Homo sapiens: one gene and its partners. The protein of the gene in region 3 interacts with the protein of the main gene of each other region in a biochemical or structural test. Each region holds a gene or a part of one and is shown on either strand. Other genes may lie near its edges. The genes, in order: CSNK2A1, ANXA1, NOP58 and OGT.

What was found.
Region 1: of the proteins of NOP58 (region 3) and CSNK2A1, one has a biochemical effect on the other in vitro, tested with the Homo sapiens proteins (2 studies listed by BioGRID and IntAct).
Region 2: the proteins of NOP58 (region 3) and ANXA1 interact in a test that uses a peptide from one of them, tested with the Homo sapiens proteins (one large-scale study listed by BioGRID).
Region 4: the proteins of NOP58 (region 3) and OGT form a complex in vitro, tested with the Homo sapiens proteins (one large-scale study listed by BioGRID).

What each region holds. Positions count from the first base shown.
Region 1 is NC_000020.11:487,447-493,025, forward strand, and holds part of CSNK2A1 (casein kinase II subunit alpha), read right to left. Parts: intron 4,919-5,579; coding exon 4,808-4,918; intron 2,436-4,807; coding exon 2,334-2,435; intron 1,333-2,333; coding exon 1,232-1,332; intron 130-1,231; coding exon 1-129. UniProt on the Homo sapiens protein: Catalytic subunit of a constitutively active serine/threonine-protein kinase complex that phosphorylates a large number of substrates containing acidic residues C-terminal to the phosphorylated serine or threonine.
Region 2 is NC_000009.12:73,160,735-73,166,313, forward strand, and holds part of ANXA1 (annexin A1), read left to right. Parts: intron 1-68; coding exon 69-159; intron 160-2,047; coding exon 2,048-2,127; intron 2,128-2,741; coding exon 2,742-2,798; intron 2,799-4,381; coding exon 4,382-4,475; intron 4,476-5,362; coding exon 5,363-5,458; intron 5,459-5,579. UniProt on the Homo sapiens protein: Plays important roles in the innate immune response as effector of glucocorticoid-mediated responses and regulator of the inflammatory process. Has anti-inflammatory activity.
Region 3 is NC_000002.12:202,284,769-202,290,347, reverse strand, and holds part of NOP58 (nucleolar protein 58), read right to left. Parts: intron 2,689-5,579; coding exon 2,624-2,688; intron 26-2,623; coding exon 1-25. UniProt on the Homo sapiens protein: Required for the biogenesis of box C/D snoRNAs such as U3, U8 and U14 snoRNAs. Part of the small subunit (SSU) processome, first precursor of the small eukaryotic ribosomal subunit.
Region 4 is NC_000023.11:71,535,277-71,540,855, reverse strand, and holds part of OGT (UDP-N-acetylglucosamine--peptide N-acetylglucosaminyltransferase 110 kDa subunit), read right to left. Parts: intron 4,679-5,579; coding exon 4,498-4,678; intron 3,028-4,497; coding exon 2,784-3,027; intron 1-2,783. UniProt on the Homo sapiens protein: Catalyzes the transfer of a single N-acetylglucosamine from UDP-GlcNAc to a serine or threonine residue in cytoplasmic and nuclear proteins resulting in their modification with a beta-linked N-acetylglucosamine (O-GlcNAc).

The DNA of each region.
Region 1 (5,579 bases), on a different chromosome or scaffold from region 3:
GCCTCTCTTGCAGTAAGCCGTGACTGGTGGTCATATCGCAGCAGTTTGTCCAGGAAATCCAAGGCCTCAGGGCTGACAAGGTGCTGATTTTCACTGTGGACAAAGCGTTCCCATCGCTTTCGAGAGTGTCTGCAGGACCAAAAGAGGGCATGAGAAATGGGCCACGTGGGCACAGAAGCCCAACATTTCATTCCTACATTTTTCTTAGTGGCTAACAGCCCAGACAAAAGCAAAGAGGGATCCAAACTCAAGAGGGTAGTCTTGCACCGCTCTGCCACTGAGTGGGACAACAAAGCTAACTGGAGACTGGAAACAACATAGCTAGAGTGAAAAAAGACATCTGAGTCCTCTCAATTTTAAGAAACATAATTCAGGTTACTTGACAGGACGTGACCGCTTCTGTGTAGCAAGGAGGGTCAGGTGGCTGAGCTCACCAGGCCTATTTCCCATCCCCACACATATTCCTGGCATCTCTGCCAATTGGCCAGCAAAAGCCTTTGCATCAGGAAAGTCCATCTCCTCCTGTTGAGTGGTTAAGTGTATAAGTACTATATCTAGTCACTACTGTTAAGAGTCGGTTGTCTGCATATAGCCTTTTTTTTTTTTTTTTTGGAGACAGGGTCTCACTCTGTTGCCCAGACTGGAGCGCAGCCACATGTTCATTGCTCTCTGTAGCATTCCCTCCTGGGCTCAAGGGAAGCTCCTGCCTCAGCTTCCTAGTAGTCTGGACTACTGCCACACATCACCATGCATGGAGTCGAGGGTCTCATTATGTTGTCCAGGCTGGTCTCCAACTCCTGGGCTCAAGTGATCCTCCTAAAGTTCTGGGATTACAGATATGAGCCACCGTGCCCAGCCTGCACATCAGTCTTAAAGCATGCATTTTCTACTTCAATTTCTTTCTCTTGGAGAGAGGTTTTTCACTTAAAGAAGCAAGGTAAATTTTGATTTTTGCCTCAACTGTAACCCTTCTACTAGAATCTACATTCATTTTGTAGGAATCCTCTAGCTATAACCCCTCCATCAGACTCCTGTAAGTTAATTTGAATAAAGGGCCATTCAATCCAATGCCTTTATCAGAGGCCTGCTCAATGCAGCATCCTGTGGCACTGGACCACTGACATCCTGACAGTGCTGGCAAAGAAAACATAACTATTTTGAAGATCCTAAGTGCCAGTTCACTCTCAAAGTGCTTAAGCCACAGATGCACATATTTTGTTTCATGACTTACCTGCCCAAGATATCATTGAAACGTGGATCTAATTCAATGTTGTATTTGTCAATATAGTCATATAAATCTTCTGTCCCCAGAACCTTGGCTATCCTCACCAACTAGTATTAAAGAAAGACAAAAACCCATATCACAAGCATATTATATTAACAAATCAACAATTAACAATGATTGAATTTACATAAACGGGTCATCATGTCTACAGGTATGAATGCTACCTCCTAACAGTTTAGACTTCAACTCAATGTGATAGTGTTAGAAAAAGCAAACTACTTTATAAACTGGTTTCTTCCTCTTGAAATGTCACCCTGGTGAACCCTTATTTTTCTCCCCTCAAAACCCAATTGAAGATGTCACTTCTTTTGGGAAGCTCCCATTGCACACTCAAACTACTCACCACTACTGCCTTTTGTGCCTTGTCCACATTTCTACTCTGAAGTTATGACTGTAACCTATTTTGTTGTATGTTTGACTCCCTTACAAGATCAGCTATGAACTATCTGAGGGGAAGAAAACTATTCTTTCTTTTTTCTGTATTCCTCAGTACTGCATGCACTTGATACAGAGTTATTGACTTTAATGGAATTCAGGTTGTATTCTTTGACTCATTAAAATTGGACATGGTGCTCAAAGGGAACAAGACAATGGTACCTTCCACAAGGTCCTAGAATCATTCCAGGTTCTTGTGAATGAAAGAGCCCTTTGATCTTCAAGGGGGAAGTGGAGTTAGTTTAAGAAACATCTGTAACTCAACCCATATAAAGAGCCAAAAGGATCACAGAAATACCACATATGGGCTCACATATTGGAGAAAACACCATATTGGAGATAAGGGTTTATTAGGAGAATTCTAAGGTAATGTCCTATTTTAAAAATCTGGATGACAATTTATATGTATTCTTCACAATAAAATAAGCAATGCAAATGACAAAGACTAGGGGGGAATGTCTGATTTCAAAAGGCTAAGCTGGTAGCTCCCGAAACATCAATCTAAGGATCAATATCGGGGTGGCTGAATAAACAGTGAACTGAAAGTTACAGGCAGTGCTGGCTATCATTGCATTAGGCCAGTACATTTTTCAATGGGTATAACATATATTACCTGATCATAATTGTCATGTCCATGGAAAAATGGCTCCTTCCGAAAGATCATACTTGCCAGCATACAACCCAAACTCCACATATCCAAACTATAATCGTACATCTGCATAAAAGTAAACTCACTGTTATTATCTGTGAATCCTCAGGCTTGTCACTTCAAAATAAAAAATTAATTTTTAAAATTAAAAAAAAATCACTCCACTGACTCAAAATCAAAACACTAATAACATCTTCATATATTTCTTTTTAGTCTTTCTTTTTTTTTTTTTTGGAGACAGAGTCTCACTCTGCTGCCCATGCTGGAGTGCAGTGGCGCAATCTTGGCTCACCACAACCTCCGCCTCCCGGGTTCAAGCAATTCTCCTGCCTCAGCCTCCTGACTAGCTGGGACTACAGGCGCGTGCCACCATGCCTGGCTAATTTTGTATTTTTAGTAGAGACGGGGTTTCACTACGTTGGCCAGTGGTCTCAAACTCCTGACCTCATGATCTGCTCGCCTCAGGTTCCCAAAGTGCTAGGATTACAGGCATGACCCACCGTGCCTGGCTAGTTTTTTCTTTTTTTTTTTTTTTTAGTTTTTTTTTTAGTTTTTTCTTTTATGCATCTTTCACTCGGTTTTAAAACAATTTTTACTTTTTTTTTTTTTTTTTGAGACAGAGTCTTGCTCTGTCGCCCAGGCTGCAGGGGTGTGATCTTGGCTCATTGCAACTCAGCTTCCCAGGTTCAAGCAATTCTCTGCCTCAGCCTCCTGAGTAGCTGGGATTACAAGCGCCCACCACCGCGCCTGGCTAATTTTTTTGTATTTTTAGTAGAGACAGGGTTTCACCATCTTGGCCAGGCTGGTCTTGAGCTCCTGACCTTGTGATCCACTTGCCTTGGCCTTTCCAAGTGCTGGGATTATAGGCGTGAGCCACTGTGCCTGGCTCTTTTTTTTTTTTTTTTAAAGACACAGGGTCTTGCTCTGTTGCCCAGGCTGGAGTGTAGTGGCGTGATCATAGCTCACTGCAGCCTCCAACTCCTGGGCTTAGGCCTCCTGAGTAGGTAGGATTACAGGCATACACCACTATGCTCAGCTAATATACATACTATTTTGAATTGTTTTCTTCACTTACATGAAAAAAAAAAAAAAAAAACCTCCAAATTGTTAGCCCATGGAGACCATCTAATGTGTATCATTAGTATTTTATTACATAAATGTTTCAGAATTCAATCTTTAATTTTCCTATAATAGGACAGTGTTCTGTTTTTCACAATTATTAGTAATACTGTAAAAACTATTTTTATGCATAAAATGCTTTTTGAACTCAGGGCTATAGCCTTAAGACCCCAAGAAAGAAATTCCTACAAGAACAAAAAGTCTGAAACTTTTAAAATCAACTGATAATAACCTGGAAAGACTGGGCATAAAAGATACTCCCAAGAAAACTTCAGATTTTTAAACACTTGGCAAATCTATTATTAATTTGGTTCCTTTCTCCTTTTTCTGTGAGGAGAAAGAAGGCTTTTTGGGGGAGCTGGGGAGAAGACCTTTTTATTTAGTATACAATTCAGAAGAACAAGAAAACATTCTTGAATTTACTCTGAAGATTGGTTAAACTTAGTTACAGGATGGGCATGGTGGCTCATGCCTGTAATCTCAGCACTTTGGGGAGCCAAGGTGTGAGGATGGGTTGTGCCCAGGAGTTTGAGATCAGCCTGGGCAACATAGTGAGACTTTCTCTCTACACACAAAAAAATTAAAAATTAGCTGGGTGTGGTAGTGCACGCCTGTAGTCCCAGCTACTCAGGAGGCTAAGCTGGAAGGATCACTTGAGCCCAGAAGTTCGGGGCTGCAGTCAGCTATGATCATGGCATTGCACTCCAGCCTGGGCAACAGAGCAAAACCCTGCCTCAGAAAACAAACAAAAGGCCGGGCGTGGTGGCTCACGAGGGCAGGAGATCGAGACCATCCTGGCTAACACAGTGAAACCCAGTCTCTACTAAAAATACAAGAAAAATTAGCTGGGGTGGTGGTGGGTGCCTGTAGTCCCAGCTACTTGGGAGGCTGAGGCAGGAGAAAGGTGTGAACCTGGGAGGCGGAGCTTGCAGTGAGCCGAGATCATGCCACTGCACTGCAGCCTGGGCGACAGAGTGAGACTCCGTCTCAAAACAAAAACAAAAACAAAAACAAAACAGCTTACAATTCAAAACAGTTCTGGAACTGCTGATTATAGAACATATCTTTGGCTACTTTCCCTCAAGTCAGGATCAAATGCAAACCTATTCATATTCTACCGACATTATGACAATAAAAGTAATGTAAGTCATGGTACATGAATTAAGGTGATTTATATTTTACATTTCATATAAAAAGGACAGCTGTGAATGTGCATTAAGTGGCCTACCTAAATGCACAAAATGATACTTTTTTTTTTTTGGTAAATTATGTGCGAAATAAACACAGGATCAAAACTGTGCCTGCCCTTCTGTTCTTACCTGATAGTCTACAAGTAGCTCAGGACCTTTGAAGTATCGGGAAGCAACTCGGACATTATATTCTTGGCCAGGATGATAAAACTCAGCCAAACCCCAGTCTATTAGTCGTAGCTGAAAAAGAATAAACCATGAGCAATCTTATCTTTCTCTAAGCTACCCACACTGTGCCATTAGCATACTCTTGATAAAATATACCAGACACGTCACTCTTTACTGAAACCCCTCCACTGACTACTTATAGCCTTTAGAATGAAAATAAAACTTCTTAGCTTGACAAACCTCTTTCTCCATGATTTTGTTCCTGGAAGACACAATCTCACCTGTGCTTTTACAAATTTCTTAAACTGCTCAATGACTAAAATGTCCCTACTACCCAGCCTATAATCCTATTGGTAAGCATTTCCTTAACTTTTGGAATATTTAAGTCAGCTTCTCAATGAAGTCTGATCATTGCCTTCAGCCCCCTGAATTTTAGATATATTTCTTTAACAGAACCTAAACTCTTTATGTTTTCTACCTTTCTTTTTCAATATGGACGACAAGCTCCTTAGGGGTAGGGACTGTTTTATTCACCTTTGTAATTTTCAGAATTCAACATAATGCCTGGTATACAGGAGAAAAATGAATAAATATTTGCTGGATAGATGAAATAACAGAAAAGTCATACAATACAGCTTTTACCAAAATGCATCCTAAACATGGAAAAAGGGGTAAGAGGCAAGCTTATCTGCCCACTGTGCATAGCATGACCATGATCTGAAGTGCCAGCAGT
Region 2 (5,579 bases), on a different chromosome or scaffold from region 3:
AAAACTCATTGATCCTCTTGCATGAAGATTTTTTTCTACATTTATCCTTTTCTTCTCTTCAAATTTAGGGCCTTGGAACTGATGAAGATACTCTAATTGAGATTTTGGCATCAAGAACTAACAAAGAAATCAGAGACATTAACAGGGTCTACAGAGAGGGTAAGTTGTAATGTCCAACAGTCCAAACGCCTTATTTGAAAAGGAAATCTAATATACTTTCTTAAAATTGACTGTCTATGGTAATTATGGCAGCTTTGGAATCTCCACATATCAAAATGTTTCTTTATTGTTTGGCACATGTCTATTAAATGCTGTTACCAGGCAACGCTTGAGTTGCTAGGTTGCTGACAAGGGAGATGGTGTCCCAATCCGCATCAAGCTTGCGTTTTAATAGAAAATGTTCCTCTAGGATAAATGGCCACATACGATTATAATGGAAACCTCAATTCAGAGCATTGAATTTTTAAAAATTTCTGAAAAACACTTTTCTATTATTCTGGAATGTATTTTATAAAAATGTCCCAAGGTCATTTTTTTTGAAAAGAATATATAATAACAAAAAAATCTCCTAACAAAATGTTTTTCATTTGTCCTTGAAAAAGTAAAGAATTAGGTGCTTATAATTCTCTGTTGGAAACCTTAACTTTATCGTTATGAACATAAGAGACTCACTTTATCTCTAGTTAAATTCACAGAATAAAAGACTAGTCTTAGCTTATTTTATCTCTCCAGTGAAGCATCTCATTTAAATGATGTGCTCAACACTGAAAAGAGGGTAATTGCAAGTCTCTTACCATTTTCCTACTCTCATTTCCCTGAGCTGCTGGCTTTTTGGCTTTCCCAATGCAATATATGGCATATAGAAGATCTTTCTGCTTGATTCTCATACCAAGCATGGAGAATACAATAGCTTTTGCATATCATTTTCAGAGGAATTTAATAAAAGAATAAAAATAAGGAAGCTTTTAAACCTCATTTTCTGCAATTCTTATTTAATTACCAATGTTTATGTTAGATCCATGTGTCAGTGGTAATAATGATGATTATTTTTGTTTGATAAAACATAGTTTATAAAAATAAGTGTTTATATATTTTTCATATGGCCAAGATATAGGCCAGTGATAGTTTATTACATTGCCCAGTTTCAAGTTGTTTTAGTCCGTTTGTGTTGCTATAAAGAAATATCTGAGACCAAGTAATGTAAAAAGAAAGGAAATACTGTACAAGTAGTATGGGACCAGCGTCTGCTTTTGATGAGGGCCTCATACTACTTCTACTCATGGCAGAAAGCAGACAGAAGCAGATGTGTGCAGAGAGGGAGAGAGAGAAAAGGAGGTGCCAGGCTCTTTTCAACAGCCAGTTCTTAAAGAAACTATGAATGAGAACTCACTCCGAGCCATTCATGAGGGATCTGCCCCCATCATCCAAACATCTCCCAACAGGCCCCACCTTCAACAGTGGAGAATAAATTGCAACATGAGACTTGGCAGGGCCAAACAAACAATATGAAAACCATAGCACTAGTCAATTATAAATTCAATTATTTTTTCCTATTACAGTATTATTTTATGTAGTTAAGCAGAAGTGTTTACACACACATAAATCATCAAACTGCATTACTTATAAGACATTTATAGTTTTTAAACTAAATAAATAATTTGCATTCAAGCAAGTACCTCATTTTGTTCTTTTAAACAATTATTTTATTCATTCTATTGCTTAAATTCTGCCATGTTGTATTTCAGAATTAATTACTAATGTATACCTATACAATTTATTCTTAACGAAAGCTTTATGACTGTGAGTTTTCAATCACAGTATTATCTAAATTGCTCCCATTGCTTCATATGAAATAAATTCAATGATCCAAAAATTTACCTGCTTTAATTTTTCTCTTCTTATTTAAAAATGATAATATTTTGCAACATGTTCCATAAGTCATTGAACACTGTGGCACTGTGAATTTTCAACCAACTTAGAGATGTCAGATATTCTTATTATTATTCATCACTGGTTTACTATAAAATCTATTTTTCTTTTTTCTCAGAACTGAAGAGAGATCTGGCCAAAGACATAACCTCAGACACATCTGGAGATTTTCGGAACGCTTTGCTTTCTCTTGCTAAGGTACAACTCAGATACTTTAGGAAATGCCTCTTGTTTTATAAAGACTAATTTCTTAGTCCATTTTGTGTTGCTATAAGGGAATATCTGAGGCTAGGTAATTTTTAAAGATAAAAAGGTTTATTTGGCTCAGGATTCTGATGGCTAACAAATTCAAGTTTGGGTATCTATGTCTGGTGAGAGCCTCAGGCTGCTTCCACTCCTGACAGAAGAGGAAAGGGAGCTGGTGTGTGCAGAGACCACATGGCAAGAAAGGAAGCAAGAGAGAGAATGGGGAGGTGCCAGCCTCGTTAACAACCAGCTCTCGTGGTTCTCATGAGCAAGAACTCATTCCCAGTGACGGCATTAATCTCTTCATGAGAGATCAGCCCCAGGACCCAAATACCTCCCTCTAGGCCCCACCTTTAACACTGGGGATCAAATTTCAACATGAGGTTTGGAGGGGAAGAACATCTAAAACCATCGCAAGTAAAATCTTGTATCTGAGCTCCTTCTAGAAATGAGTAATAGAATACCTTTTTCTCAAAAAATATTATTTATCTGAGTTTAAGATAATTAAGTAAATCATGCAATTACATGCTAGAGAAGAGCTTACAATAGAATGGGATTTCTTTCAGGGTGACCGATCTGAGGACTTTGGTGTGAATGAAGACTTGGCTGATTCAGATGCCAGGGTAAGGAAGTGCTTACAAAATACTGCTGCAGTTCATCTTCCTACCTTAAGTGGGGCTACCACATGATCCCCTGTGAAAGCAAATCTAAGATCTTCTGAGAGACCAATGGCTTCTTAATGTTCATTTCCTGAATGAGGCATGTCTTTCTGTAGCCCCCACACACAAAAAAGTAGTCTTTGTAAGTTTTCAATATCTCTCATTATTCGTAAAACCAGAGAGAACTGAAGAAGGACAATACAAATTTGATTTGTCATTCCCAAGAATTGTTTGTTAAAAAAAACTCTGACCTTTCGTTGTACTAGGTATAAGAAGGGGAAATGTAATTTTTTTATTATGTGCAATGGAAAGAGTAAGCATATTTAACGTTATTTTTAACAGAGAACTTTGGAATGGTTTATAGATGTCAATTTATATTGTCAAAATATTACTGCAATGATATAACAAGAGTATAGGATAAATTATAATAATATATGCTTTCTAACATATTGTTTTATTTAGTTTCAGTGACATTGCTGATTATTTATATGCCAAACCACTGGCAACATAAGAAAAATCATATCATTTTAAAGCCTGGAATTTCCATTTAAAACAAACAAACAACTAATATTTGCATTATGCCTTCTCATGGAACAGTATTCTCTAGAGAATTCATTACAGTGCTTCACTAAGGATAGAGATTTCTTTGTGCACCCCCATCCACTTCTGCTATACCAGTACATTATCATGTACATAATAGGCACTCATGAACTTTTTGTTCAACAAATGCATACATATCAGATCAATTTGCTTGAAAAATGCAAAATAATTTTTACATACATTGAAGGTTTTATCATTTTAATAGAAATTGTTCAAGCATATTAAGGAACAAGAGTTAGCATTTGAATAATTGCCCATAATAAAAAATTCTTATTTGCTTTTGACATTTCTGAATTTGCTTTCCATTTTAAGACTATCAGGGTTCTTAATATATATTTATGGAGGTTACATGGATTAGTGTGACCCAAGAGAATGATGGTAGTCAACATTTCAAAGTTAATAAAGACCGCTTGTGACAATAGGGCAGGGATTATATTTTTCATATATAAAAGAAAAAAATCTGTCATTTAGTAAGGTTGATCTATTTGTCTAAGATTATGCAGCTTTGAAATTGCAGAGTCAGAATTTGAATACAGAAATTCTAACATCAAAATGCAAGGTCCAGGTTACGGTTGAATTATTGATTTATAAGTAACATTTGCTGATAATTACTTTGAACAACACAGAGTAAAAAATCTTTAGAGATCCCCTTGGAGTTGTCTTACTATAGAGCATAATCTTAAAGCAATTTAGTTCAGCAAACATTTATTCTGCAAACATATATTCAGACTCTAGTGTTTACAAGGCACCTTGAGAGAAACTGTGGAAGATATTTGACAAACAAAATAAGGTCCCTATCTTTAAAGAACTTGCAATCTTATTGTTGACTACTCTGATTGTATTGGGCACAAAGCGATTGCCTATATAATCTTTGACAAGGTCTAACATTATTGTGCAGATATCATTTCAGCAGATAGTGAAGTGTTTACTTTTGTGTTTCTTGACAGGCCTTGTATGAAGCAGGAGAAAGGAGAAAGGGGACAGACGTAAACGTGTTCAATACCATCCTTACCACCAGAAGCTATCCACAACTTCGCAGAGGTAACAATAAATTTCTTTTTCTGGAATCTGTTTATGGAAGATGCAATTTTCTTTTTTGATGACAAATAAGAGAAAGTAAAAACAGAACCCTTTTTCAATATCACTCCTGTATCAAACAGATACAGTGTTCCTGACCCATTGTTATTTGTCAATTTGTCCAATTTTGTACAGCCGCTACTTTATCATATTTAATACATTTTGTGACTTGGGCATGTGGAACATAATTTTGTTATTTTCACTGCTTTTACTCCCCTAAAAGATTTGGAATATGTGTGGGAAAAGACATGCATAACAGAACAAATGAAATTAGAATGAAGAAAAACAAAAAAAAAAAAACAAAAAACCCTCAGAGCTAAATGAAGAAAGAAATATGTAGGTGCTTTGGAAAAACAACAACAAGACAAAACTCAGAAAAAGTCCTGGCCTTTGAGTGCAAGATTTAGCTCTGGGCCTCTTGGAAGTGAAGGCGATGGAAAAGTTATGACAATTACCAAAGTTCACCATCTTATAATAGTATACTGATTTCTACTGTTAAATGTAAGAGAAATTTAGTGCACAGGTCTTTATATAAGGGAAGATCCATTTGCTGTGGCTCTTAGAACTGCTGTAGGAAGTGCTATAGTTGTCAATCACATGCCGTTTCTAATAACTGTCAACATTTGCAAACATTTCGCCAAAATATATAGGAATACCAAAATGGCCAGGTAAGTTACATTCCTAGGAGAGGATGAAGTATTCACGTTATGATTAATTGGGTATATTGCTTTAAAAGGTGTAGCCAAAGTTGTTATTCTAAAAAATTCTTTGAGTCAGTTGCCTTGATTTTGCTAAAGCTTTCTAAAGAAAAGGATGTTTTGCATGTATCTTAGTTTGAATTTAATATTCAGTGTTTCAGAAATACACCAAGTACAGTAAGCATGACATGAACAAAGTTCTGGACCTGGAGTTGAAAGGTGACATTGAGAAATGCCTCACAGCTATCGGTATGTAGTCCAGCAGTTGAAAGAGTTTTCTAACTAGAAATTGTATTTTCAAAGCTATCCTATACTTAACAAGAACAACAGCAACAAAACCAATAAAAGAAAACAAAAAACAATCAGAAGT
Region 3 (5,579 bases):
TCTTTATCCAAGTCATCTAACAAGGCTGTAGTAGATTAAAAACAAACAAACAAAACTTAAAGGGATTTATTGTGGTAAAACATACACAACATAAAATTTAACACTTCAGGCTGGGCACGGTGGCTCATGTCTGTAATCCCAGCAGACAGGCATATCACGAAGTCAGAAGTTCAAGACCAGCCTGGCCAACATGGTGAAACCCCATCTCTATTAAAAATACAAAAATTAGCCAGGCATGGTGGTGCACACCTGTAGTCCCAGCTACTCTGGAGGGCTGAGGCAGAAGAATCACTTGAACACAGGAGGTGGAGGTTGTAGTGAGCCGAGATCGTGCTACTGCATTCCAGCCTGGGTGACAGAGCAAGATTCCGTCGCAAAAAATTTAAAAAAAAAAGAATAAAAAATAACACTTCAACCATTTTCAAGTGTACTATTCAGTAGCATTAAGTATTCTTATGATGTTATGCAACCATTACCAGGATCTATTGCCAGAGCAATTTTATCATCAGAAACTGAAAAATTCTGTACCCATTAAACAGTAACTCATTCCCACCTTCCCCCCAACCTCTAGTTATCTTTATACTTCTGTCTCTGAGTTCACCTATTTTAGGTACTTCATATAAGCAGAATCATGCAGTATTTTGTGACTATTTCACTTAGCATATTTTCAAGGTTTATCATGTTGAAATATGTATCAGAATTTCATTTCTTTTTAAGGCTGACTAACATTCCACTGTGTGAAGTGGCTGGGTGTACGTTACCCAAAATGCTTGGGACCAGAAGTATTTCAGAGTATTTGCAAACACGTATGAGGCTGAGGATGGAACTCGAAGTCTAAATAGGAAATGCATCTACATTTCACATATACCTTATATACAAAACCTTGAAGGTAATTTTACACAATATTTTAAATAATTTTGTGCATAAAACAAAGTTTTGACGTGTGGTCAGGTGTGGAGTTTTCCACTTGTGGATTTGTGTGGTACCACAAAAAGTTTTAGATTTCAGAGCATTTTGAATTTCAGATTAGGGACATTCAAGCTGCATCCACAATGCAGTTTATCCATTCATCTGTTAAAAGGTATCTGGGTTGTTTCCACTGTTTGGTTTTGTAAATAACACTGTTATGAACATAGGTGTACAAGCAACTCAGTTCTGTTTTTAATTCTTTTGGGTATAAATCTAGGAAAGGAATCGCTGGTTGAGCGCTTTTTTTTTTCTTTTTTTGGAGACAGAGTCTAACTCCATCACCCAGGATGGAGTGCAGTGGTGCGATCTCAGCTCACTGCAACCTCTGCTTCCTGGGTTCAAGTGATTCTCCTTCCTCAGCCTCCTAAGTGGCTGGGACTATAGGCACACGCCACCTCGACTGGCTACTTTTTTGTATTTTTAGTAAAGACAGGGTTTCGCCATGTTAGCCAGGCTGCTCTCAAACTCCCGAGCTCAGGCAATTCACCCGCCTTGGCCTCCCAATGTGCTAGGATTACAGGTGTGAGCCACTGCGCCCAGCCGAATACTTTGTTTTTTTTTTTGAGACGGAGTGTTGCTCATGTTGTCCAAGCTAGAGTGAAATGGTGCGATCTCGGCCCACTGCAACCTCCGCCTCTCAGGTTCAAGTGATTCTCCTGCCTCAGCCTCCTGAATAGCTGAGATTACAGGCGCCTACCATCATGCTCAGATAATTTTTTTATTTTTTACTAAAGATCGGGTTTCACCATGTTGGCCTGATCTCGAACTCCTGACCTCAGGTGATCCACCAGCCTCTGCCTCCCAAAGTGTTGGGATTACAGGCGTGAGCCACGGCCGAATGCATTTCTAAAATAGAAAAACGATTAAGATTTTGATTTTTTTTTTTTTTTTTTAGTGAGATGGAGATTTGCTCTTGTTGCCCAGGCTGGAGTGCAATGGCACGATCAACTCACTACAACCTCTGCCTCCAGGGTTCAAGTGATTCTCCTGCCTCAGCCTCCCGAGTAGCTGAGATTACAGGCATGCACCACCATGCCTGGTTAATTTTGTATTTTTAGTAGAGACGGGATTTCTCCATGTTGGTCAGGCTGGTCTCAAATTCCCGACCTCAGGTGATCCTCCCGCCTCAGCCTCTCAAAGTGCTGGGATTACAGGCATGAGCCACTGTGCCTGGCAGCTTTTGAGCTTTCTAAAAACCATTTAATGACACAGCAGAATACACAACTACAAAGATTGCACTTATGTTTTTAACATTTTCATGGAAAAATACAAATGAATTAATTAACGTAATGTTAATTCTGTGATTCATATAATCTCCAAATAGTCAACCTCCGCCTCCTGGGTTCAAGCAATTATCCTGCCTCAGCCTCCTGAGTAGCTGGGATTATAGGTACACGCCACCATGCACATTTAATTTTTTTTGTATTTTTAGTAAAGACAGAGTTTTGTCATGTTGGCCAAGCTGGTCTTGAACTCCTGACCTCAGGTGATCCGCCTGCCTCAGCCTCCCAAGTGCTGGGATTAAAGGCTTGAGCCACCACACCTGGCCTCCTTTCTCTTTCTCAACAGACAGAATCATAAAAGATAGTTTCAACAGTATGAAAACGCATGAAGGACAGAGCAACAAATCGGACTTTGCATGTACTATACTTACAAATTGCCTGAACAATCATTGTGTCTACTTTATCAGCGCTAAACTTCAATCTATATCGAGACAGGCTGGGAAGAAAGGGGAAAATAAATTAGCAAGATAGCATCTAGGAAAAGCATTTAAATTAACACCTTAAAGTTTTTTTTTGTTTTTGTTTTTACTCAAATCAGCCTGTAGTCAGAGCTGTAATTGGTTTTTCTAAGAAGAAAAATCAGCTAAGTAGAAATGCACCATACGAGAACAGAAAATACACATTAAAAAAAAAAACTATATGTGCTGCTACGACCTTTATTTCTGTAACATGAATGAGTTTATGTATGAATGACAAATAGGATAAGCTGTGTAATACAAAAGTCATATTGGACTGGGCGTGGTGGCTCACGCTTGTAATCCTAGCACTTTGGGAGGCCGAGGTGGGCAGATCACCTGTTAGGAGTTCGAGACCAACCTGGCCAACATGGCGAAACCCTGTCTCTACTAAAAATATAAAAATTAGCCAGGCATGGTGGGGCACGCCTGAATCTCAGCTACTCTGGAGGCTGAGGCAGGAGAATCGCTTGAACCGGGGAGGCAGAGGTTGCAGTGAGCCGAGATCACGTGCCACTGTACTCCAGCCTGGGCAACAAAGCAAGACTCCGCCTCAAAAAAAAAAAAAAAAAAAAAGCCATATTGGTTCATGCAATTTTTAATAGCACATATTAAGCTTTATACTACCAGTTAGGAACTTTGCAGGACTCTTAACATCTGAAAACAGAAAGCTGTGGAGTAACAATATTGTCTGTATAAAAATGTTTTTTCATCTCAGCACAATTAATATTTTGGGCCTAATTCCTTGTTGTACAGGCTGCCCTGTGCATTATAGGACCTTTAGCAGTATCCCTAACTTTTATCCACCAGATACTCATGGCAGACCCCAACCCACCTCCAATTGTGACAACCAAAAATGTCTATGGACATAGACAAATGCCTACTGGGGGGACATCTGATTGCCCTTGATAGGGAACCACTGCTATACACAATGCAGATTTACCCAGGTTTGGATTTTTGACTCAGTTTCACTATTTGTTCTCTCTTAGAAATGCTTATTACAAAGCTCTCCCTAACCTTTGTGCATTTTTGCTCTTAACTCTAGCTTAGCAGCTTCAACCCTTTCAATCTATGCCCACCTTTTAATTTTAAAATAGACCTTTTTAAATTGTAGTGTTTCTTTTTTGTTTTGTTTTGAGACGGAGTCTTACTCTGTCACCCAGGCTGGAGTGCAGTGGAGCAATCTCCACTCACTGCAAGCTCCACCTCCCGGGTTCACGCCATTCTCCTGCCTCAGCCTCCCGAGTAGCTGGGACTACAGGCGCCCGCCACCATGCCTGGCTAATTTTTTTGTATTTTTAGTAGAGACGGGGTTTCACTGTGTTAACCAGGATGGTCTCGATCTCCTGACCTCATGATTCACCTGCCTCAGCCTCGCAAAGTGCTGGGATGTATTACAGGCGTGAGCCACTGCGCCTGGCCTATAGTGTTTCTTTCTCCCTTTTTTTTTTTTTTTTTTGAGATGGAGTCTCACTCTGTCACCCAGGCTGGACTGCAGTGGAGCGATCTCCACTCACTGCAAGCTCTGCCTCCCGGGTTCACGCCATTCTCCTGCCTCAGCCTCCCAAGTAGCTGGGACTACAGGCGCCCGCCACTGTGCCCGGCTAATTTTTTGTATTTTTAGTAGAGACGAGGTTTCACCGTGGTCTCGATCTCCTGACCTTGTGATCTGCCTGCCTTGGCCTCCCAAAGTGTTGGGATTACAGGCGTGAGCCACCGTGCCCAGCCTGTAGTGTTTCTTTTAATATTAGCTTAAAATGTCTTTTGAACTGTGGTAATAATTTTATTAGGATTACTATTTGACAGTACTGATTACAAAGTTGCACAGGTTTTGAGCAACTACCTACCATTATTTTCTTCACAACCCTGTTAACTGTAGTGCAATTCCAAAGTATTAAGCTTTTCATGAACAGATGTATCACAACATAGCAATAATGCCTATTCTAAGGGACTTCTAATGAAATATGATAGGGTTAACATGCAATTAAAAATAGGGAGAAGACTGGGCATGGTGGCTCACCCCTGCAGTCGCGGCACTTTGGGAGGCTAAGGCAAGTGGATCACTTGAGCCTGGGAGTTCCAGCCTGGGCAGCATGGCAAAACCCCGTCTCTACAAAAAGTTAAAAAATCAGCCAGGGATGGTGGCGCACACTTGCAGTCCCAGCTACTTGGGAGGCTGAGGTGGCATTGTTTGAGTCCAGGATGTCCAGGTTGCAGTGAGCCAAGATCGCACCACTGCACCCCAGCCTGAGCAACAGAGTGAGACCCTGACTCAAAAAAAAAAAAAAAAAAAAAAAAATGCCGGGTGTGGTGGCTCATGCCTATAATCCCAGCACTTTGGAAGGCCAAGGCGGATGGATCATTTGAGGTCAGGAGTTCAAGATCAGCCAGGCCAACATGGTGAAAGCCCGTCTCTACTAAAAATACAAAAATTAGTTGGGCAGTAGTGGTGCACGCTTGTAATCCTAGCTACTCGGAGGCTGAGGCAAGAAAATCACTTGAGCCTGGGAGGCAGGGGCTGCAGTGAGCAGAGATCACGCCACTGCACTCCAGTCTGGGCGACAGAGTGAGAATCTGCCTCAAAAAAAACAAAACAAAAACAAAACAAACAAAAAAACACAGAGAGAGACATATTTCTTGCTATGTTGCTCAGGCTAGTCTCAAACTCCTGGTCTCCCAAAGAGTTGGGATTACAGGGGTGAGCCACTGCACCTAGTCCTCTTTGCCTTATTAAAAATCAGAGTAAAGCAATGAAAACACAAATACACACCTATCCCATAAGACCATAGCAGATGAGAGAATTTGGGGGAATACTAAGTAGATGGAGGAGTGGCATGACTTAGCAGAGATAAAGGAGGGAAAGCCCAAGAAA
Region 4 (5,579 bases), on a different chromosome or scaffold from region 3:
GTAAAAATACAAAAAATTAGCCAGGCATGGTGGTGGGCACCTGTGATCCCAGCTACTTCGGAGGCTGAGGCAGAAGAATCGTTTGAACCCAGGAGGCAGAGGTTGCAGTGAGCCGAGATCGCGCCACTGCACTCCAGCCTGGGTGACAAGGGCAAAACTCCGTCTCCAAAAAAAAAAAAAAAATGACAGACTAAAATCTTACCAAAATTATGAAAACACCCAACATTATAATTATAGAAGATAATTCAGAATGAAAAAAATGAGATAGCTGTCTCAAAGATAATTTCTATAATCAAGTCACAGAGAACAACTTCTAAATTGACATATCTATTAACTTAAAAAGATAAACACTGTTGAAAACAGTTACCAAGGTTACCAAAGATACCACCTTAACATTCTACTCTTTCACTGCTGCAAAACCAAAATAACCTGAGTTTCTTTAACCATTTTTCATAGAATGCCAACTACATCTATGATTCAGGTACACAATGTACTAATGATGCATTTAAGCACTGTCAACAAGAACATAAGGAACAGACGCAAGGTTCTACCAGTACTGAACTGACAACGGGCATTTGACAGTAAGTTTAAATCTAGTTAAGACTTTAGATATCCTGAAATAAATTAAAATATGATCACTATGGCATGTTTAGTTGAAATCAAGGGAACTTGCACAATCCCATTTTCATTCTTATTGGTAAAAACAGTAATAAATAAGTAAAGCAGCACCTTCCACTAGAAGAAACATAGAACCAGATGACAACACATGGCCATTCAATGCATTCAAGAGGTAATCCCATGATTTATTTTAGTACTATCTCACTTCCTTGGTAGGGTACAACAATAAGCTTCCTGCTAACAGCAGGTTAGATATTAAATAGCAAGGTTCCATCTCTCACTTTAGTTTTCCTTCTCAGCATAGTCCTACTGCTTGGGTACACTATCAGTAGCAATGACTGCTCTGCTACACACATAGGCAACTGGAAACCTGAGCCAAGGGCATTAGAGTTAAAGATGGCAAGAACCACAGCTGTGTAAGAGGGTACACTATCAATAAGAGTAGAATCAACCTGATTAATAAAGGTAAAGAACTTACTGTGACAACTGGGTACAGAGGTGAGCCCTGAGCCCTGGGAAAAATGGGGTCCAAGGCCCAGTGGCAGTACATACCAGGCTCCCTAAAACTTTATGTGGGTAACTAGCTAGATTAGTATTGCAATAAAACTTACAAAAAGTCACTCAAATGTACATATATATACACTGAGTGTCTCAGAAAAGATAGACAAGAAATTAGTTTCATTTGCTACCTCCAAGAGTGCTAACTGGAGGTATTCACTGTATCCATTCAAAAACCAATAAATTTAGAAGCTGGGTGTGGTGGCACACACCTATAGTCCCAGCTACTCTGGAGGCTGAGGCAGGAGGACTGCTTGAGCCCAGGAGTATGAGTACAGCCTGGGCAACATAGCAAGACTCCATCTCTTAAAAAAAAATGTTTTTTAAAGCAATGGATTTTCTAAAAAGGACACGTTTAAACTCTCAAAATTAACTACAAAAATTGTTAATAGATATCATCATGAGAAGTGACTTCGGATCTTTGAACAAACTACTAAATTTAGTTTCAGTTTCCTAACCAAAAAATAAGGGACAGCAAAATATGATCAATGGTTTTTTAACTGTGCTCAAGGGCTGCTTTGATGGGTGAGTGCCCTCTGGGCACATCATCCCACTTTTATTTCTTTTCACTTCAACATTTGCTTTGAGGATATTCAGACTCAGGTTTTAATATCTATTAATACTTCATTACTAGCTTTGTCCCCATGAAAGCCACATAACCCTGAGTCCATGGTTTTTTTTTAATTGATAAAAATCAGAAATAATATCATCTATTTTGAAGAATTATTGTGAGGATTAACTAAGACCAATCATTTAAAGCTGTCAGTAGAGTGTCTGACCACACAGACTTTCAGTAAACGGTAGCTAAAATAAACTATTAGCCATTTCCAGGTTGGTTACAAAACTGAATGTTGACAATGTAACTTGGGAACTTTTTCTAGATTTCTATAACCCCACTATCATTTACCTCTTAAGTTTACATCTACTTTCTCTAACTACATCATAAGTTCTGAGGGAAAGTCTTATGTTTTTGTATCTTTCGGAGATCCTAAACACAGTATGAATTTAAGGTCTGCCAGCTGAGCCTTACTTGTTCCCAGAACACATCTGCAACTTAGACAAAAAAAATTTTTAAACTAATCAAAAGCCCAGTATAAGTAGTATCATCTAAATTCTATGACTTCTAATTACATTGAAAGAGAAGAGAATAGGATATTGAGGAAGAAATTTTGTAGCCTAATTTTCACATCATTCCATATAGTGGCATCTTGTTTCAAACTATTTTATATTACAGATTTTACAGATTAAGACCCATTATCCACCATTCCTTGAAAATCAATTAACTTGCAAACACTTATCAGAATTTATCCAAAGTTAATCACAACAGAAAAAAGTCATGTGCTCTGTACTTTATACGTGTTATTTTAAAATTGATGTAGTTTCTTGCAATAAGAATTTTTATGCTTTTTAATATAACTTGCTAAATAAAACAAATATTTTAGCATAACGCAGACCAGCTAAAAGCAATTTCACCATTTTAAGTACATACGCATTTCTAAACTTTTGACTTTATTCCATGTGAAAACCTACTTTAGTGTCTGAAATATCACACTATGTTTCTTTCTGGGTTTCTAGGAAGGGAAAGTAACCATTAAAATTTTACTCACAGGATTGTACTGAAGAGCAGAGACGTAAGCTTGTACTGCCCCTTCCATGTCACCCGCTGCTACCAAGGCGGCTGCCAGGTTAATATAACCATCGATGAAATCAGGTTTGAGACGCAATGCATGTCGATAATGCTCAATTGCCTCCTGCAACTGCCCTCTTTCCTTGTACACATTCCCCAAATTCGAATAAGCTTCTGCCAGAAGGGGGTTCTGTTTAATTGCCAGAGTGCTAAAGTGAGCAGATCTGGAAAAGGCGACAAGTGTTAATGCATGGGTATGCACGTTACAGAAAAGAAGGTATGGCCCATATGCAACTCAAACAGTTTGAGATCTGTGCTATTGCTCATTATATAATACCTTATCTTTTAACTAGTGCATAGCAAGAAAAATTTGGGAAATCAAAGATTTTCAAAAGTGGAGGTATTCTAGATTTCAAAATGAAAAGCTTTTTCTTATTAAATAAAATTATTGGCTGGGCGCAGTGGCTCACGCCTGTAATCCCAGCACTTTGGGAGGCTGAGGCGGGAGGATCACCTGAGGTCAGGTGTTCGAGACCAGCCTGGCCAATATGGTGAAACCCCGTCTCCACTAAAAATACAAAAATTTAGCCACGCATGATGGCAGGCGCCTGTAATCTCAACTACTCAGGAGGCTGAGGCAGGAGAATCGCTTGAACCCGGGAGGCGGAGGTTGCAGTGAGCTGAGATTGCGCCACTGCACTCCAGCCTGGGTGACAAGAGCAAAACTCCACCTCAAAAAAAAGAAAAAAATTCTAACTAGAGTCTTGTTACAAAACTACCACATTGGCCGGGCGCGGTGGCTGATGTCTGTAATCCCAGCACTTTGGGAAGCCAATGCGAGCAGATCACCTGAGGTCGGGAGTTTGAGACCAGCCTGACCAACATGGAGAAACCCCGTTTCTACTAAAAATACAAAAATTAGCTGGGCGTGGTGGCACATGCCTGTAATCCCAGCTACTCAGGAGGCTGAGGCAGAAGAATCGCTTGAACCCAGGAGGCAGAGTTGCAGTGAGCCGAGATGGCGCCGCTGCACTCCAGCCTAGGCAACAAGAGCGAAACTCCGTCTCAAAAAAAAAAAAAAAAAAAAAAACCCACCACATTGGAAATCATGATCATTAAGATAAAAAATGGAAAGCTATGTGCACGAGTCTCATTTTCCATTTAAGATTTAATGATGCACATCTTTAAGTGTCTAAATATGCCAGAATAACAATTATTAAAAGGACAGGAACACAAATTCTTCCCTTTTGATTAATTCAACTGATTAACTAAAAGCAACACACCATAACAACTTAATGAAACTCCAGGTATGCATCTCCTGCCACAGCATACATAACCATCATTTCTGAGCATTTCAGTCCCTCAAACTGACAGGTCTCATGAAAGGGAGACTGGATGCTCAGATATACATTGATAATAATTTATTACCTGAACAGAGTCTAGAAAGCAGCAGACCCAGATAGAAAAATCTAGAAAAGGTCCCTAGTCATACTGATAATATAACCACCACCACAAAAGGAAGGAGAAAAACTGGCAGCTGGGCATGTCACAAGTGGGCAAGAGAGCAGATGTGCGTTGGCGGCTCAGTTGAAACCCGGTACTGGAAAAATTTCAAGTTCAAATATTTAAGTATCATTTTTCAAGCTCAGCACCCAGAGGCAGCAATCACGAGCAGGTACCCCAACATCTCCTACCTGTCCAGCCTTCGACACTGGAAGTGTATAGATGAAAGTAATAAAAGCACACCAGTATTGTCTGGCTCTTGTCTCCAGAGCTGCATGCAGTGTCTCTCAGCTGCCTCAAAATCTCCTGCCTGATATTCTCGATGTGCCAACTCAGCTAACCCTTGGAAGGAAAGCATACGTTTCGTTGGTTCTGGAGAATCATCAAAACATTTGAGGGAAGGAGGGGGGAAAACAAAAAGTTAGAAATGTAAACCAAAAAAATGTAAAAATATGGTATATTTAACTTAAAAATGGAAATGCTTGAAACTATGTAAAGCACTAGAGTGTTCTGCACGTTATGTATATCTTCAAGTTAACATCAAGTGCAGAATTGGCATTTTTAGAATTCACCCATTAATACTTTCTTTCCCAAACTAGAAAGGAATATTTACTTCCATATGAGATTACATTTTATGACCAAAAATACTTTGTACTTTTAAATTATAAATCATAGGTAGCATCTAAGGATTCACTGAACATTATTCCTTATACCTTAGTTAACATACAGAAACAAAATATTAAACGTGTGATTTGCAAGGTCACAAAGACTTAATAATATCAGAATAACATATTGGGAAACGTAATATTTTGTGCCATATTTCAGGTTGGATTTGTTGAGGTGGAGTACTGGTAACAATCTATCAATCTTAACCTCAGTGAGGACACCAGATGTGTTAATTCTTTAAATTATATCAATTTTTGTATATTTCAGAATTTAATTCTTTAAAAGGACAAGTAGAAACGAGCCTAAGGGAAAAACCAAAAAGTCAAAGTGCTATTTTTAAAACAGCTGATAAACAAGATGTTTGTCATTTGACAACAGCCAAAATAGTTAAAGGGGTCATCAAACATTTTAAATAAAGACCCAAGATTACACTGCTCCTCTACCATCCCAAACTCAAAAGGAGACTAAATTGGCTAAATCCCACCCACGTTGGTTTAGCACTAACATTTTCCAAACAGCTCTGGTATTGACTAAAGGATTAAGACATTGCAAACAAGCCTATATAAGCCAGGCAGTTACCTGCAACTGCAATGGTCAAAACGTTGGG